2 separate regions of the Homo sapiens genome follow, and region 1 is linked to region 2. Evidence: fine-mapped expression QTL. Tissue or cell type: whole blood. Region 2 holds a variant in brackets; the other region holds the start of a gene. All regions are shown on one strand. Distances are between the middles of the regions.

Region 1 (8,175 bases), 25 kb before region 2:
AAGAAAAAAATTAGCCAGGCATAGTGGCGTACACCTGTAGTTTCAGGTACTCAGGAGGCTAAGGCGGGGGGATCACTTGAGCCAGGAGGTTGAAGCTGCAGTGAGCTATGATCGTGCCACTGCACTCCAGCCTGGGTGACAGAGTGAGATTCCGTCTCAAAAAATAAAATAAAAATTTTTAAAAAGAGGCTCCTTATGTCTGAGGATGAAAAGATCTACTCGTGGCTGAAAAATCTCTACCTGTTTCCCTCCCTCCCCACCTCCTGCGAGAAGCAAGACGAAGCCAGCAGAGCTGCCTTAGGGAGTGACACCTGAAAATAGAAACTGCAATGGGATTTTATTTCTAACTCCACAGGCATCTCTGTGAGTCATTCATCTCTCTGGGTCTCACTTTCCTTGTCTGTAAAGCAGGCTGAATTCACCCTGACTTCTGCCTACACCACAGTTAAAGGGCTAGGAAGAAAAATCCCCAAAAATCCACTTCATAAATAGAGCCCCAGGGCGCTCCTTATAAAGCACGAGATAAACCACAGACAGAATTCTGGTCACAGGACACCCCCTGGACCACCCATGGGGCATCATTCCTTTCTCCCGGCTTCCTTCATTCTCCCGGCTTCCTTCACGGGGTTCTGGGCACACCTGGTCCCTTGTAGCTGCGGTCAGCACGGAAACAAGAAAAGCTTCAGACAGGCAAAGGTGCAGAAACCAATGCCAGGGCCCACAGGGACAAAGTTTTCGATTTTTGTGTTTTGGGTGGCAGTACTCTCACACCAGGATGACTGGGTCTTAGCACGACCTAATCGTCTTCATGATGGAAAGAAAGCAAAGCAACTGATTGCCCAGAGAAAACTGGAAGGTACAGAGGCAGGATGAGACTGAGGTGAAGGTAAGGTGAGGAAAGACAGGCGGAGAAATGAAACATCTCAGGGTGGTGTGGGAGTGGACATAGGGTTGGGAGGGCATTGTGACCCCCTAGGCTAATTCCCCCCTCAGACCCCACCCCAACGTTACCTAATCAGGTGGACGTTTTCTTAGTAAGCAGGTTACAACTGACTTGGTTTGGGGCTTTGTTTTTTTTTCTTTTTTTTTTTTTTTGAGACCGAGTTTCACTCTTGTTGCCCAGGCTGGAATGCAGTGGCGCGATCTCAGCTCCCCGCAACCTCCACCTCCCAGGTTCAAGCTATTCTCCTGCCTCAGCCTCCCGAGTAGCTGGGATTACAGGCATGCGCCACCACACCCAGCTAATTTTGTAGTTTTAGTAGAGACATGGTTTCACCATATTGGTCAGGCTGGTCTCGAACTCCCGACCTCAGGTGATCCACCCGCCTCGGCCTCTCAAAGTGCTGGGATTACAGGCGTGAGCCACCGTGCCTGGCTTTTTTTTTTTTTTTTTTTGACACAGTTTCACCCTGTTGCCCTGGCTGGAGTGCAATGGCGCGATCTTGGCTCACTGCAACCTCTGCATCCTGGATTCAAGCGATTCTCGTGCCTCAGCCATCTGAGTAGCTAGGACTACAGGCACGCCACCACGCTTGGCTTTTTTTTTTTTTTTTGTATTATTAGTAGAGATGGGATTTCATCATGTTGGCCAGGCTGGTCTCGAACTACTGACCTCAGGGGATCCACCTGCCTCGGCCTCCCAAAGTGCTGTGATTACAGGCATGAGCCACTACGCCTGACCTGGGGCTATTTATAAGAAGCCCTCAAGGTAGCAGATCACCCTCTGATGGCCACATGGAGATCTGGGAAACGAACCCCCGGTCATGCCTCTGGACACCTGCCCACTTCTATCTGTGCCTTCCTGGGCCCTGGTTTTCAGAGCTATGTGGGTGCCTGACACACTCAGGGCCACAGAACATGGGAAGGGCTCTAGGCCAAGAGTCCCGGCATCATTCGAGTCTGCTCTGGCCCGCTCCTGCCCTAAGCCCTCCTGCTCACTTCCAGCTGTGGAGGTAGCCCAGAGAGTGCCTGGCTCCCTGGCTCCCCCCTCTGCCAGGCCCACTCAGTGTGACCTAAATCCTTGCCGAGGCTTGGCAGCCCTCTGCGGGCGCCCGGATGGCCTCTGGCCTTGGTGACGGTGAGGCCCAGCTCCCCTCAGTTCCCAGCCTTCCCGGAACCCCTTGCCTAACATCCTGTGTGGTAATCATGCCTGTTGGCCCCATTCAGTCCTGCCGGCCACTGCCAAGTTGCCACTGCTAGTTCCAGACGCTCCCACCTCTAATGGAACCATCGGGAAATAAAAAGCTGCAGCACAGTTTCTCTCTCAGGTCAGAATCTCCTCCCAGCACTTTGGGAGGCCAACGTGGGAGAATCACTTGGGCCCAGGAGTTCGAGACCAGCCTGGGCAACAAAGTGAGACCCCGTCTCTACAAAAAGTTGAAAAATTAGTCAGGAGTGGTGGCGAACATCTGTGATCCCAGTTACTTGGGAGGCTGAGGCGGGAGGATCACTTGAGCCTGGGAGGCGGAGGCTGCAGTGAGCTGTGATAGCGCCACTGCACTCCAGCATGGGTGACAGAGCGAGACCCTGTCTCAAAAAAAAAAAAAAAAAAAAAAAAGAAAAAAAGAAAAGAAAAGAAAGAAAAAAGAAAAAGTGGGGAGCAGGTTGGGGAGCATGGTGAGGGCCACCTACTGCCTGATAATGGTGGGGGACAGGAAGGGGACTGAGTGCTCTGAGAGGCAGCTGATCCCGTTTTCTCACTTAAATACCTCTCACCCTACAGAGAAGCCCTGATTCCATTTGCTGTCTTTCTTAGCAATGTCTTAGCAAAAGTCTTCTATTTGCCACACGGGTCCAAGCTTCCGCTTACTAAGCACCCAAGTGCCAGACAACCCCGGAGGCAGGTACTCCCATTGTCCCCACTGTACAGATGAAGAAACTGAACTCAGGGTCACACAAGTGATAAGGGGTGGCAGAGATCTGAAGCTGTGCGCGGAGGCGTGGCCAGCGTGTGCGCTCCGACTTCTAAATCCCTACTCTGGATATTGAAGACGGGAAAGACCGAGCCGCTCATTCTACAGATGGGGAAAAGCGAGGCCTGAGGAGTCCCAGAGCGGGTGCCAGATCGTAGGGAGCAGCCAGCACCCCGGGTCCCCTCCACGACACAACCACGTCCCTCGGCCACTTCTGGGTCCCGCGCGCGTCTCGGACGCGGCAGGACAGCTCTAGGACGCACGGCCACCAGGGGGCCGAAGGGAAGGGCGGGGGCGGAGGCTCGGAGCTGACCCACCGCCTCGCCCCGGAAGCTCCGAGGCCCCGCCCCGGCGGCCGCCAGCGGAGGGCGTGGCCTCGCCGGCGCCCCCGCCCCGCCCCCGCCCCCGCCGCGCGCGCCCCCGCCGCGCGCGCCCCCGGCCCGGGCCCCAGTCTTGCTGAGCGCAAGGCGGTGGAGGCCTGAGGCCTGAGGCCTGGGGCGGGGTGGCGGCCGGGCTGGCCTTGGCCTCGCGCCTTCCCCTGCGGCCGCCGCGGGCTCCGCGGGCGGTATCGGAGTGTCGTGCGGCGCGTGGCCGCGTGACACGCGCACTTGTCGGAGTGACGGGCCCTGCGGAAGAGGAGGTGCGGCCCAGGGCGCAGGGGAGCCCTCGGGAGCGGGCCCGGCCCTCAGCGCCGCCCCGGCCGTGTCCCGGAGGAGCGGCCTGCGCCGCCGCGCGAGAGGAAGTAAGCGCCCCCCGCCGGCCCCGCCGCCGCCCCGGCCCCGGCGCCTCCAACCCGCGCTGCCGCCGGGCCCGAGGCCGCGCCGAGCCCCGGAGCCTGCGCTGCCAGCCCCACGGAGCCTGGGGCTGGCGGCTTTGGAACTGCTCAGGAGGCGGCCAGGCTCCCTCCAGGGTCGCCCCGAGCGGCCGAGCTGTCCTTTCCCTGGGCTTCCCGGAACTGAGTTCCAGGAGAGGGGGAACTCCGAGATTTCCCCCGGGACCTGCTTAATCTTTGGCATTGATTGGCCCTCGGGTTTCACATAGCGTTTCCCGTACCCGGATCTAGTGAACGGTTTTCCAGGGGCAAACCTCTCTGGATCTCTGAAAATCAGCTCACCCAACCTTGAATGCTTAGCCAGAAGTGAGAACTTCTGGAAAGAAGTGTCCTTGCCCACTCCCCCTGCACCCACAACAGGCCCATGGCTCATGAAAGGCAGCAGATGAGGGAAAACTGGTGTCAAATGGGCATATTTTTTATTTTATCTTTTTACTTTTTTATATAAAAGTAAAAAATCTTTTACTTATAAAAGATGGGGTCTTGCTTGGTTGCCCAGGCTGGAGTACAGTGGCACAAACACGGTTCCCTGCAGCCTCCACCTCTTGGGCTCAGGCCATCGTCCTGCCTCAGCCTCCGGGGTAGCTGGGACCACAGGCGCACACCACCACGCCTGGCTAATTTTTAAACCTTTTGTAGAGACAGTGGTCTCACTATGTTGCCCTGGCTGGTCTCGAACTCCTGGGCTCAAGCGATCCTCCTGCTTAAGCCTTACGAAGTGTTGGGATTACAGGTGTGAAGCACCACGCCCAGACAGCGTATTTTAAATTATGCATCATATCCCTTTAATTTTTCATCATTATGATTGGAAGATCATGAAAAGCTGTCTGAGTTTTTCCTTGGCATTTTTCTGTGGTTGATGGTTAGTTGTTGCCCAAGCTGGAGTGCAATGGCGCGATCTCGGCCCACTGCAACCTTCTCCTCCTGGTTCAAGCGATTCTTCCACCTCAGCCTCCTGAGTGGCTGGGATTACAGGCGCGTGCCACCACACCCGGCTAATTTTATGTATTTTTTAGTAGAAACAGGGTTTCACTATGTTATCCAGGCTTGTCTTGAACTGCTGACCTCAGGTGATCCACCACCTCGGCCTCCCAAAGTGCTGGGATTACAGGCATGAACCACCGCGCCCAGCTGGTTAGTTGGTTTTAACAGCAGTTCAAGAAGCTAGCAAGAAGGACTTCATTCGTGAAGCTAATGGTTTAATGATAGAAACTAACATTTCTGGCCGGGCCCAGTGGCTCACGCCTGTAATCCCAACACTTTCGGAGGCCAGGGCGGGCAGGTCACTTGAAGAGTTCAAGACCAGCCTTGCCAACATGGTGAAACCCCGTCTCTACTAAAAATACAAAAATTTGCTGGGCATGGGGGCAGCGGATGCCTGTAATCCCAGCTGCTGGGGAGGCTAAGGCAGGAAAATCGCTTGAACCGCCCTGCCTCCGGTGACGGAGGTTGCAGTGAACCAAGATCGTGCCACTGCACTCCAGCCTGGGTGACAAAGCTAGACTTCTCCTTAAAAAAAAAAAAAAAAAAAAGCAGCTAGGATTTCTTGGGTGCTTACTGTATGCCAGGCATTGTGCTAAGTACCTTACATGCTTCCCATCGATTTGTTTTCCCATTCTGTGGTTGAGGTACAGAGAGGTTAAATAACTTGTCTGAGGGTACATAGTTACTGAGTGGCAGGGATTTGAATCCAGAATATTCTTATGTAACCAGTTCTCCAAAAACTAGCCCTTGAAGGTCTTCCACGTTTCAACAAAGCAACTGAGGCTTATACATGATGTCTTCATGATGTCAGAAGGAAGAACTGTGAAAGGCAAAGCGGACCCGGGAGGCAGAGGCTGGTTACCGCAGTTAGTGTTCGGAACAGCTTGACTTCATGGAGCAGAGAAACAGCCTGTCTGGTTTAAACCACTGTTCAGTATCTACACTGATACAGTGTAAATGTAATACAGTGTTTTACATTTTGCCATTCAGGGATGTAGTCACATTTTACGGGAAGGTTAGCTCTGGGACCAGACTGCCTGTATTCAAATCCTATCACCTCTAGCTGCTTGACCTTTGGTAAGTTATTTGACTTCTCTTTTTTTTTTTTTTTTTTTTTTTTTTGAGATGGAGTCTTGCTCTGTTGCCCAGGGGCGCAATCTCAGCTCACTGCAACGTTCGCCTCCTAGGTTCAAGTGATTCTGCTCCCTCAGCCTCCCAAGTAGCTGGGATTACAGGCACCTGCCACCACGCCTGGCTAATTTTTGTATTGTTAGTAGAGACGGGGTTTCACCGTGTTGGCCAGGCTGGTTTTAAACTCCCGACCTCCAATGATCCTCCTGCCTCAGCCTCCCAAAGTGCTGGGATTATAGGCGTAAGCCACTGCGCCTGGCCATGTTATTTGACTTCTCTTTGCCTTAGTTTCCTCTCTACTCCCTGCTAAGATGGGGATAATCATGTTACCTACCTCATATGGTTGTGGCAAGATTTAAATGGTGTGATGCATGTCACACCGATAGCCTAGCATTTGGCATATAGTTAAATACTCCATAAATAGCTCTTTTATTATTAAAAGTGTTGTTCCAAGTAGTAAGCTGCTGCTGTGTGCTGTGTCACAGTGCTTGAAGTCACCATTAGAGGTATATTCCTTTGTGCCGTATTTCAAATGCAGAAATGACAGTGGTCCTGTGCAAATGGGATTTATTTGTTCATTTAGCAGATATTTATAGAGCGCCTTCTGTATGCCAGGCCTTGTTTTGGATACTGGAGGTACTGCGGAGAACAAAACAAACAAAAGTCCCTGTCCTCATTGGCACGCACACTCTTGGGAAAAGGAATGGCAGACAATAGGCAAAATGAATGTAATTATCATACAGTATATTAGAAAGCGATGTACTGTGGGGAGAAATAAAGCAGGAGAGGAGGATGGGGGTGGGCGGTTTACAATTTTAGAGTGGTCTGAGTAAGCCTCACTGAGAAGATGACATTTTAGCAAAGAAAAATTAGTGAGGGAGTAAACCACGTGGACCTGGTGGGGGACATGGGGGAGTTGGCCAGGCGGAGAGAACAAGTGCAAAGGCCCTGAGGCAGGAGGCTGGGCGGCCAGAGCCTAGACAGGCAGGATGGTAAGAGAAGAGATCAAAGAGGTAATGGGTGGGAGGCCAGAATGTGTAGACTCTGCAGACATCTGCACAGAGGAATGGCATGATCCAGCTGGAGCTATAAAAAGGTCACTCTGACTGCCGTGTTGAGGCTCAGCCATAGAGGGTCCAGGTAGACAGAGGAGGCCAATTAGGAAGTTCCTGTAGTAATCCAGACGGAGATGACGGTGGCTGGCACTGGAGTGGAGTGGTGGAAGGTGGTGAGAAGCAGTTGTATTCTAGATAAATTTTGAAGATAGAAACTACAGGATTTGCTGACAGATACGATGACCTCAAGGTTTCTGGGTCTGAACACCTGGAAAGATAGAGTTGTCATTTACTGATAATGGGGAAAGCTACATTGGAAGCAGATTGGGAGAGAAATCAGTTCAGTTTTGTACATATTAAGTCTGGCAAACATCCCACTCATGCTCTCAGAATAGCAATTGACTGCATGAGTCTGGAGTTTAGGGGAAGTTCGGGCTGTAAATAAAGACTTGGACGGATAGGCAGTTGTGTGCTGGTAATGTTTACCAACTGACTCTGTGAGGGGTGGGGTTGGTAGTGGGGAACCTGATTTATAGCCTTTGCCTATATCTGTGGTGTAAATATTCTGACGTTGGCCAACTTCAAATACACTATAATAGAATATCTTCACCTCATAGATGCAGTGGATATAAATAATATCAAGAGCATAGATATTAGTGAAATGTAGTCAGATGATTAGGAAGTAATGAGTTTTGAGTATTTATTACCTTTCTTTTTAATTTAATGGTTTTTTTTTTTGAGACAGAGTCTCACTCTGTCACCCAGGCTGGAGTGCAGTGGTGCAATCTCTGCTCACTGCAGCCTCCGCCTCCTGGGTTCAAGCAATTATTCTGCCTCAGCCTCCCAAGTAGCTGGGATTACAGGCACCCGCCACCACACCCAGCTAACTTTTGTATTTTTAGTAGAAACGGGTTTTTGCCATGTTGCCCAGGCTGGTCTCAATCTCCTGGGCTCAAGTAGTCCTCCCGTCTCAGTCTCCCAAAGTGCTGGGATTACAGGACAGGTGCCTAAAGATGGGATGAGGATTCTCTGAGATGAGAGAGGAACAAGGACCCCAGAGCCCGATCTGGAAGCTTTTGTCCCCATTCTGGCCCTTAGGGCAGTGAATGCAGATCAGAGGTCATTGATAGCAGGCTTGATTTTTATCTGCATTGATGGGTTCAGCATAAATGGACCAGAACAGGAAGATTGCAAAAAACAGACAAAAAACAACAAAAACAAAAACCTTGGGTTGGCTATTGTAAAAAGACTAGGCACATCA
Region 2 (8,154 bases):
ATGGACTGATCCACAAACATTGCTGGCATCAGTTTCTCTTTTTCTGGATGTCTTCTCAACAATAGCACAAGAACTTGAAGGCCACAACACTACAGAGCTGGGGGATCTCAGCCATTGTTTTCCCAGTGGAGACCACTCTTGGCATTTTGGTTGGCACAGTTGGGCTGGACTTCCTGCTCATTTCAAGGTTTAGTATCCCTGGACAGAGCTGCACCCTCTAGCTCCTGGTTGTTATGGCCGGGGACAGAGTGCCTTCCTACGAGTGGCTGCCGGCTTCATTTCTTGCCCCCCAACACTGGTGCTGCTGTCGGGAATGGCATATCGGGCTGGATTCAGGGCAGGTTGTTCCCCCAGCCATGACCTGGACATGCTTGCTGTCTGGTTGGCCCGAGAGTGCACACCACCAACCTGGTCAGGGCAGGTGCCCAGGACTGGCGCCATGGACCCAGAGTGGCTGCTGGGAGGGGAGCATGCTGGGCTCAGCAGGCCTGAACTTAGGATCTGCTGCTTTTTGTCTGTTGGAATTAAATGTTAACTAGATACTAGGTAAATTTAAAGTTTACAGAATGCATGGAAGAGATACAGAACTATGGTATAAGAAACGGGGATGCACCTACCACCCGTTTTTAAAAAAGAATTTGATTCTCCTGCGTGTCCCTCCCCACGTTCTGACCTATTTCCTCATCTTACACTTCCAAATTGTGGATAGATTATTCCCTCGCTTCTCTTTCTGTTTCCATGCACGCCTGGTTCCCTAAACAACCTGTTGTTTAATTTTGAACAAGAGTCATCCTGTATGTGTCCGAGCATGGATCTTTTTGTCTCTGTGTCCAGCATTTGGGAGAATCGCCTCAGCTCTGTCTTCTGCTAGCTGACTCTTTACAGCTGTTTCTCATCTGTAAGGCCCATCTACTGAATTTCTAGTTTCCAATTATATTTTTCATTTATTGAAGTTCTGTTTATTTTGGTCACTTTATATCCTGTTTTCTTTTTCTTTCTTTTTTTTTTTTGAGACAGGGTCTCATGCGGTGTTGTCCAGATGGGGTGCAGTGGCAGGTTCACAGCTCACTGCAGCCTTGACCTCCTGGGCTCAAGCAATCCTCCCACCCCAGCCTCCCAAATAGTTGGGACCACACTTGGCTAATTTTTTTTTTTTAATTTTTTGTAGAAACAGGGTCTCACTTTGTTGCCCAAGATGGTCTTGAACTCCTGGACTCTGGGCTCAAGTGATCCTCCTGCCTTGGCCTCCCAAAGTGCTGGGATTACCAGCATGAGCCAGTCCGCCTGGCCTATATCCTATTTTCAAGTTAATTTTTATTTTATCAAAGTAATCATGTTGCTTTCTCACCACATTACGTCTTGGAGGTTTATCCGTGACAATGTGTGGATCTTCATTTTCTCTGCTGTCCACTGTCTGAACGTAGTGCTGTGTTAGGGGCTAGGGATGCAGCAGAGGGCAGATGCCACTCAGATGGAGCCTCCCTCGTAGTGGGGAAGAAAGAGAAACAGGCCTGAATTACAGTCAGCTGGGCTAGAAGAAGCCAGGGCCCCTCAGAAGGGGTAGGCCAAAGCTCCTAGAAGCTGAGCCCTTAAGGATGACTGGGAGTTTGCTGGGTGAACAAACAAATCCCAGGTTAGGGGTCCTACGTGCAGAAGCCTTTGAGAAATGATGGCTCCTCGTGTCTGAGGCCAGGCTCTCTCTGTAGGTGAGGGTGTGAGGAGACTTGGGCATTGGAACTCTCCTGCGAGGTGGTATGCGTTGGAACCCTGATCTCTGGGACTGTCCTGTATATTCGAGTCACCGATAATCAGTGCTCACCGGGGTTCAGCCTCAGAGGAGGGAGTGGAGCGGAGCTCGTGGTTAAGCAGTGTCTGCTTCTGCCCCCGCGCCTGGTCACCTGCCTCCTTCCTCACTCGCGGAGCAGGAGTGATCACGGTGCCTGCGTGCAGGGTCTTTGTGAGTATGGGGAGGAGCGGCGCGGGCCGGGGCTGCTGTCAGCGTTGGTGTTGTTATGCTGGTGTTGTTACGTTGCTATTGTTACACCGGTGTTGTTACGCCAGTGTTGTTATGTTGCTGTTGTTACGCTGGTGGTGTTATGTTGGTGTTGTTACATCAGTGTTGTTACGTTGCTGTTGTTACACCCGTGTTGTTACGTTGTTATACCGATATTGTTACGCCAGGGTTGTTACATTGTTGTTACACCAGTGTTATGTTGTTGTTACACTGGTGTTGTCATTCTTATCCCAGTGTTGTTATGTTGTTATGTCAGTGTTAATGTTGCTGTTGTTATGCTGTTGTTACACCAGTGTTATGTTGTTGTTACACCGGTGTTGTACACCATTGTTATGCCGGTGTTGTGTTGTTACACTGGTGTTATGTTGCTGTTACACCAGTGTTGTTACATTGCTGTTAAGCTGGTGTTATATTGTTATGCTGGTGTTGTAACATTGCTGTTAACACCGTTGTTATGTTGCTGTTATGCCGGTGTTGTGCCAGTGTTATGCCGGTGTTGTTTTGTTGTTGTTACGCTGGTGTTACATTGTTACACCAGTGTTATGTTGTTGTTACACCGGTGTTGTTATGTTGCTGCTGTTACATCGGTGTTGTTACATTGTTATGCTGGTGTTGTTATGTTGTTGTTACACCAGTGTTGTTACATTGCTGTTGTTACTCTGGTGTTGTTATGTTGTTGTTATGCTGGTGTTGTGTTACTGTTGTTATGTTGTTGTTACGCTGGTGTTGTTATGTTGCTGTTGTTACATCGGTGTTATGTTGTTATGCCAGTGTTACATTGCTGTTACGATGATGGTGTTATGTTGCTGTTGTTACACTGATGTTTTTTGTTTGTTTGTTTTTGTTTTTGAGGCAGAGTCTCGCTCTGTCGCCCAGGCTGGAGTGTAGTGGTGCGATCTCAGCTCACTGCAAGCTCTGCCTCCTGGGTTCACGCCATTCTCCTGCCTCAGCCTCCCAAGTAGCTGGGACTACAGGCGCCCGCCACCACGCCCAGCTAATTTTTTGTATTTTTTAGTAGAGACGGGGTTTCACCATGTTAGGATGGTCTCGATCTCCTGACCTCGTGATCCGCCTGCCTTGGCCTCCCAAAGTGCTGGGATTATGGGCGTGAGCCACCATGCCTGGCCACACCGGTGTTGTTATGTTGCTGTTGTTACACCAGTGTTGTTATGTTGTTGTTACACTGGTGTTGTATGGTTACACCATTGTTGCGCCAGTGTTGTGTTGTTGTTACACTGGTGGTGGTGTTACAACAACTTGTTGTTACACCAGTGTTATGTTGCTGTTAAGCCAGTGTTGTTATGTTGTTATGCTGGTGTTGTTATATTGTTGTTACGCCAGTGTTGTTACGTTGCTGTTATGCTGGTGTTATGTGGTTGTTACACTAGTATTATGTTGCTGTTATTCCAGTGTTGTTACATTGTCACACCAGTGTTGTTACGTTGCTGTTACAATGGTGTTATATTGCTGTTATTAAGCTGGTGTTACGTTGTTGTTATGCTGGTGTTGTTACATTGCTCTTAACACCGGTGTTATGTTGCTGTTGTTACGCCAGTGTTGTTATATTGTTGTTACACCGGTGTTATGTTGCTGTTGTTACACTGGTGTTACATTGTTGTTACACCAGTGTTGTTATGTTGCTGTTGTTACGGTGGTGTTATGTTGTTATGCTGGTGTTGTTTTGTTGTTGTTATGCTGGTGTTACGCCGGTGTTATGTTGTTGTTACACCAGTGTTATGTTGCTGTTGTTACGCCAGTGTTGTTACGTTGTTGTTATGCTGGTGGTGTTATGTTGCTGTTGTTACTCTGCTGTTATGTTGTTGTTACACTGGTATTATGTTACTGTTGTTATGTTGTTATGCTGGTGTTGTTGCACTGCTGTTATGCTGGTGTTATGTTGTTACTCCGGTGTTGTTACGTTGCTGTTGTTACGCCGGTGTCGTTATGTTGTTACGCCAGTGTTGTTACGTTGCTGTTAGCTGGTGTTATATTGCTGTTGTTAAGCTGGTGTTATGTTGTTGTTATGCTGGTGTTGTTACATTGCTGTTGACACTGGTGTTGCTGTTGTTACGCCAGTGTTATGTCGTTACACCAGTGCTGTTATGT[TGTC/T]GTTACGCCAGTGCTGTTATGTTGCTGTTGTTACGCCAGTGTTGTTATATTGTTGTTACACCAGTGTTATGTTGCTGTTGTTACACTGGTGTTGCATTGTTGTTACACCAGTGTTGTTATGTTGCTGTTGTTACGGTGGTGTTATGTTGTTATGCTGGTGTTGTTTTGTTGTTGTTATGCTGGTGTTATGTTGTTACACCAGTGTTATGTTGCTGTTACGCCAGTGTTGTTACGTTGCTGTTGTTACACCAGTGTTGTTACGTTGCTGCTGTTATGTTGCCGTTGTTACTCTGCTGTTGTTATGTTGTTGTTACACTGGTGTTGCACTGCTGTTATTCTGATGTTGTTATGTTACGCCAATGTTGTTATGTTGCTGTTGTTACATTGGTGTTGTTATGTTGTTGTTACGCTGGTGTTGCTGCACTGCTGTTATGCTGGTGTTGTGTTGTTAGGCTGGTGTTGTTATGTTGCTGTTGTTATGCTGGTCGTGCTGCTCCATGTTCTCCAGGTGTTCTTCCCTTTTATCGTCACAGTTACCCCGTACACCTGACAACTGGACATCTGCGCCTGGGGGTCTTCAGCCTAAACACACCTAAACCCTCCACCAAACCCCTCTGCTTCCGCCTCCCCGTGTCTGTGAGCGCCTCCACTGCCCATCCCTCTGCTCAGGCCCCACTTCCAGGGCTCATGTTGGGGGCCTCCATTTTGCTCACACCCACCCCATCTGTCAGCAGGTCCAGTCAATCCTGACTCTGGGGTGCCTCTCCCTCCCCTCCAGCTCCTGTACTGCCCATTAGTCCAGGCCCTGTCGTCTCTGCTGGGCAGCTGTGCAGCCTCTTCCTTGCCTTCCCTGCATCTGCACCCATTCTCCCCCCAAGACCAGGGGTCGATCCCCAATATAGGTCAGGTCTCGTCTTCTCCTGCCTCAGATCCTCCAGTGTCCCCCCTACAACTGATCTTAGAAAAAAGTCCAGCCTCTTCGCCTTATCCTGCAAGACCCCTGATCTCCTCTCCAGCCTCACCGCTGTCCCCACTCTTTGCTCACCTCCATCTGGCCCCCAGCACACCAAGTTCCTTCCTGCCTCGGGGCTTTGGCACCTGAGGGTCCCTGCAGCTGAGATGCTTTCTCCCTGGCTTTTTGCGAGGCTGGCTCTTCAGGTCTCGGAGGGGCCTTTTCATTACCCTCTGTCACAACTGCTCTGTAATTTTGTTTACTTCCTTTTCTCTTCTTCCCACTTTCCCTCCCTCCCACTCCCCTGCACATTGCCTGGCACAGGTGTGCGCCCGGTAGTGAGGTGGCACTTGTTAGTCTCATCCAAGGGCAGGATGCAGGAACAAAAGTCAAGTAACTTACCCAAGATCACATGCTAGTAAGTGGCAGTCATACTCTGGGGTGCTGCAGCCCCCGCCATGGTGCCATAGCCCCCACAGTGCCGAGCCTCCTACTGGCAGTGGCCAGGCAGGGCGGGGCGAGGGGCTGGCCAGTATCTACAGAGGCAATCTGGCCTTTGCTGGGAATAGAGCTTTCTTCATGTGGATTTCTGTAGAGGCTCACGGATTTGACGCCTTCTCTTACAGTAGTTCTCATTGACAGAGGTGGCTTCAAGACTTCCTCCCTCCCTTCTCGTGGTGAGGTTGGCTTTGGTGTGCACCATTTTTATAGGCCCTGTGGACTGGGGGAAGAGGATGCAGGATGAATGTGCGGGCTGGGGTTTTGGTGCACCTCGGGGAGATCTGATGTTCTGGCCTCTCTTTAGATCCTCCCCACTTCTCCACCTCCCTCCACCAGGCCGCACCAGCTTCTATGAGGAGTACGGTGTCATTCGCGACGTCCTCCAGAACCATCTGACGGAGGTCCTCACCCTCGTGGCCATGGAGCTGCCCCACAATGTCAGCAGTGCGGAGGCTGTGCTGCGGCACAAGCTTCAGGTCTTCCAGGCGCTGCGGGGCCTGCAGAGGGGCAGTGCCGTCGTGGGCCAGTACCAGTCTTACAGTGAGCAGGTGCGCAGAGAGCTGCAGAAGCCAGACAGCTTCCACAGCCTGACGCCGACCTTCGCAGGTGGGCCCTGGGGCTGGGCATGGGGCACTGGGCTGCCCACTTCGCCGGGAGCAGCTTTCCAAATGCAGACGCCCTTGGGTGGAGTGGAGGGGACTTGAGGTGGGATTTCCCCCAGGGTGCTCGGAGGCAAGGATGGCATTCCCCTGTCTCCCTGGCCTCCTACCAGCCTAAAGTGGCAGGCCAGCTGGTGGTGCCCTCAGGGCGAAGGACATCCCAATGGCCATGGCCTCGTGTCAGCCCCAGTTCAGTCCCAGATGCTTCCCAAGGGTTTGTCGTGCGAGGCTCAGACAGACCTGGTTCCTGCCTCATAGGGTCTCCCCAGTGAGGCCGCAAGCCTTTTGCCTGGCCACAGCTGGAGACACTTCCAGCGGCCAAGTGCCATGCCAGGGCTGTCCTCTGGGCAGTTCCAGAGACCCAGGGCTTTCTGGGAGAGGCTGGCTCCTCACCAGGTAGCAGCCAGGCAGTAAGAGCCACAGCTGCCTGTTGAGCACGCGCCGTATGCCAGGTGCTTTATAGATGCCTCTCATACAAGCCTCACGCACCAACCACGAGGCAGGGGCCATTAGCCCCGTTTTACAGGTGAGGAAACGTAAGGCTCGGTGAAGTCGTCAGAATGAACCAGGCTTGGAACTTGGGCATGGAATACTGTCAGCCCCTGGCTCTTGCCACCAGGCCTTGTCCCTCCTTGCCAACACCCCACCCACGGGCCTCTGCTTGGTGACTCTCTCCTCACCCCGCACCTCTGACCCTGCGTCGGGTGCATCCTGAATGCTTCACAAGCAGGAGGGAAGCACGTTTCTCTGTAGGACCCCCTGACCCCTCAAATACCTAAGAGTCAGGGTCCCCCACCCCACTTGCCCCCACTGTGGGGCGTCCTTTAGAGTCTCCAGGTTGGATGCTCTCAGCCCGGTTCTCCTTTCCTGGGGGACCATAACTCTAAGAGGGGCCTCAATGAAGGCAGGTGTCAAAGCCATAGAGATAGCCCCAGAGGCCGGTTTTCAAGCATGGACTGGGAAGAGAAGGTCATGGAAGAGATGCCAGGCGAGGGGTGAGCATGGCAAGGCGAGGGGCTTCCCTGAGGCAGGGGGACGCCCAGAGGAGCCGGCAAGGAGAGGAGAGGGCTGGCCGGAGAGTCCTGGTCTGTGCCAGAGAGTCACCCTCTGCTGTTCCCTCACCCCAGCCGTCCTAGTGCACATTGACAACCTTCGCTGGGAGGGCGTGCCTTTCATCCTGATGTCTGGCAAAGCCTTGGACGAGAGAGTGGGCTACGCTCGGATCTTGTTCAAGAACCAGGCCTGCTGTGTGCAGAGCGAAAAGCACTGGGCCGCGGCGCAGAGCCAGTGCCTGCCCCGGCAGCTCGTCTTCCACATCGGCCATGGCGACCTGGGCAGCCCTGCCGTGCTGGTCAGCAGGAACCTGTTCAGGCCCTCCCTGCCCTCCAGCTGGAAGGAAATGGAGGGACCACCTGGGCTCCGCCTTTTCGGCAGCCCTCTGTCCGATTACTACGCCTACAGCCCTGTGCGGGAGCGGGACGCCCACTCCGTCCTCTTATCCCATATCTTCCATGGCCGGAAGAATTTCTTCATCACCACAGAGAACTTGCTGGCCTCCTGGAACTTCTGGACCCCTCTGCTGGAGAGCCTGGCCCATAAGGCCCCACGCCTCTACCCTGGAGGAGCTGAGAATGGCCGTCTGTTGGACTTTGAGTTCAGTAGCGGCCGGTTGTTCTTTTCCCAGCAGCAGCCGGAGCAGCTGGTGCCAGGGCCAGGGCCGGCCCCAATGCCCAGTGACTTCCAGGTCCTCAGGGCCAAGTACCGAGAGAGCCCGCTGGTCTCCGCCTGGTCCGAGGAGCTGATCTCTAAGCTGGCTAATGACATCGAGGCCACCGCTGTGCGAGCCGTGCGGCGCTTTGGCCAGTTCCACCTGGCACTGTCGGGGGGCTCGAGCCCCGTGGCCCTGTTCCAGCAGCTGG

Evidence for each region. PIP is the estimated chance that this variant, and not a neighbour inherited with it, causes the effect.
Region 1: H6PD starts here. The variant in region 2 is fine-mapped to the expression of H6PD in whole blood (TOPMed, PIP above 0.99).

What each region holds. Positions count from the first base shown.
Region 1 is chr1:9,231,413-9,239,587 of GRCh38, forward strand. H6PD (hexose-6-phosphate dehydrogenase/glucose 1-dehydrogenase) reads left to right here and starts at 3,362. Exons shown (of 5, transcript NM_004285.4): 1 at 3,362-3,654. RefSeq lists a silencer at 3,215-3,774.
Region 2 is chr1:9,256,147-9,264,300 of GRCh38, forward strand. H6PD (hexose-6-phosphate dehydrogenase/glucose 1-dehydrogenase) reads left to right here. Exons shown (of 5, transcript NM_004285.4): 4 at 5,913-6,182; 5 at 7,363-8,154. Among named protein-coding and RNA genes, the nearest start is that of H6PD, 25 kb to the left of the region's middle. The variant TGTC/T (reference allele first, on the strand shown) is at 4,121.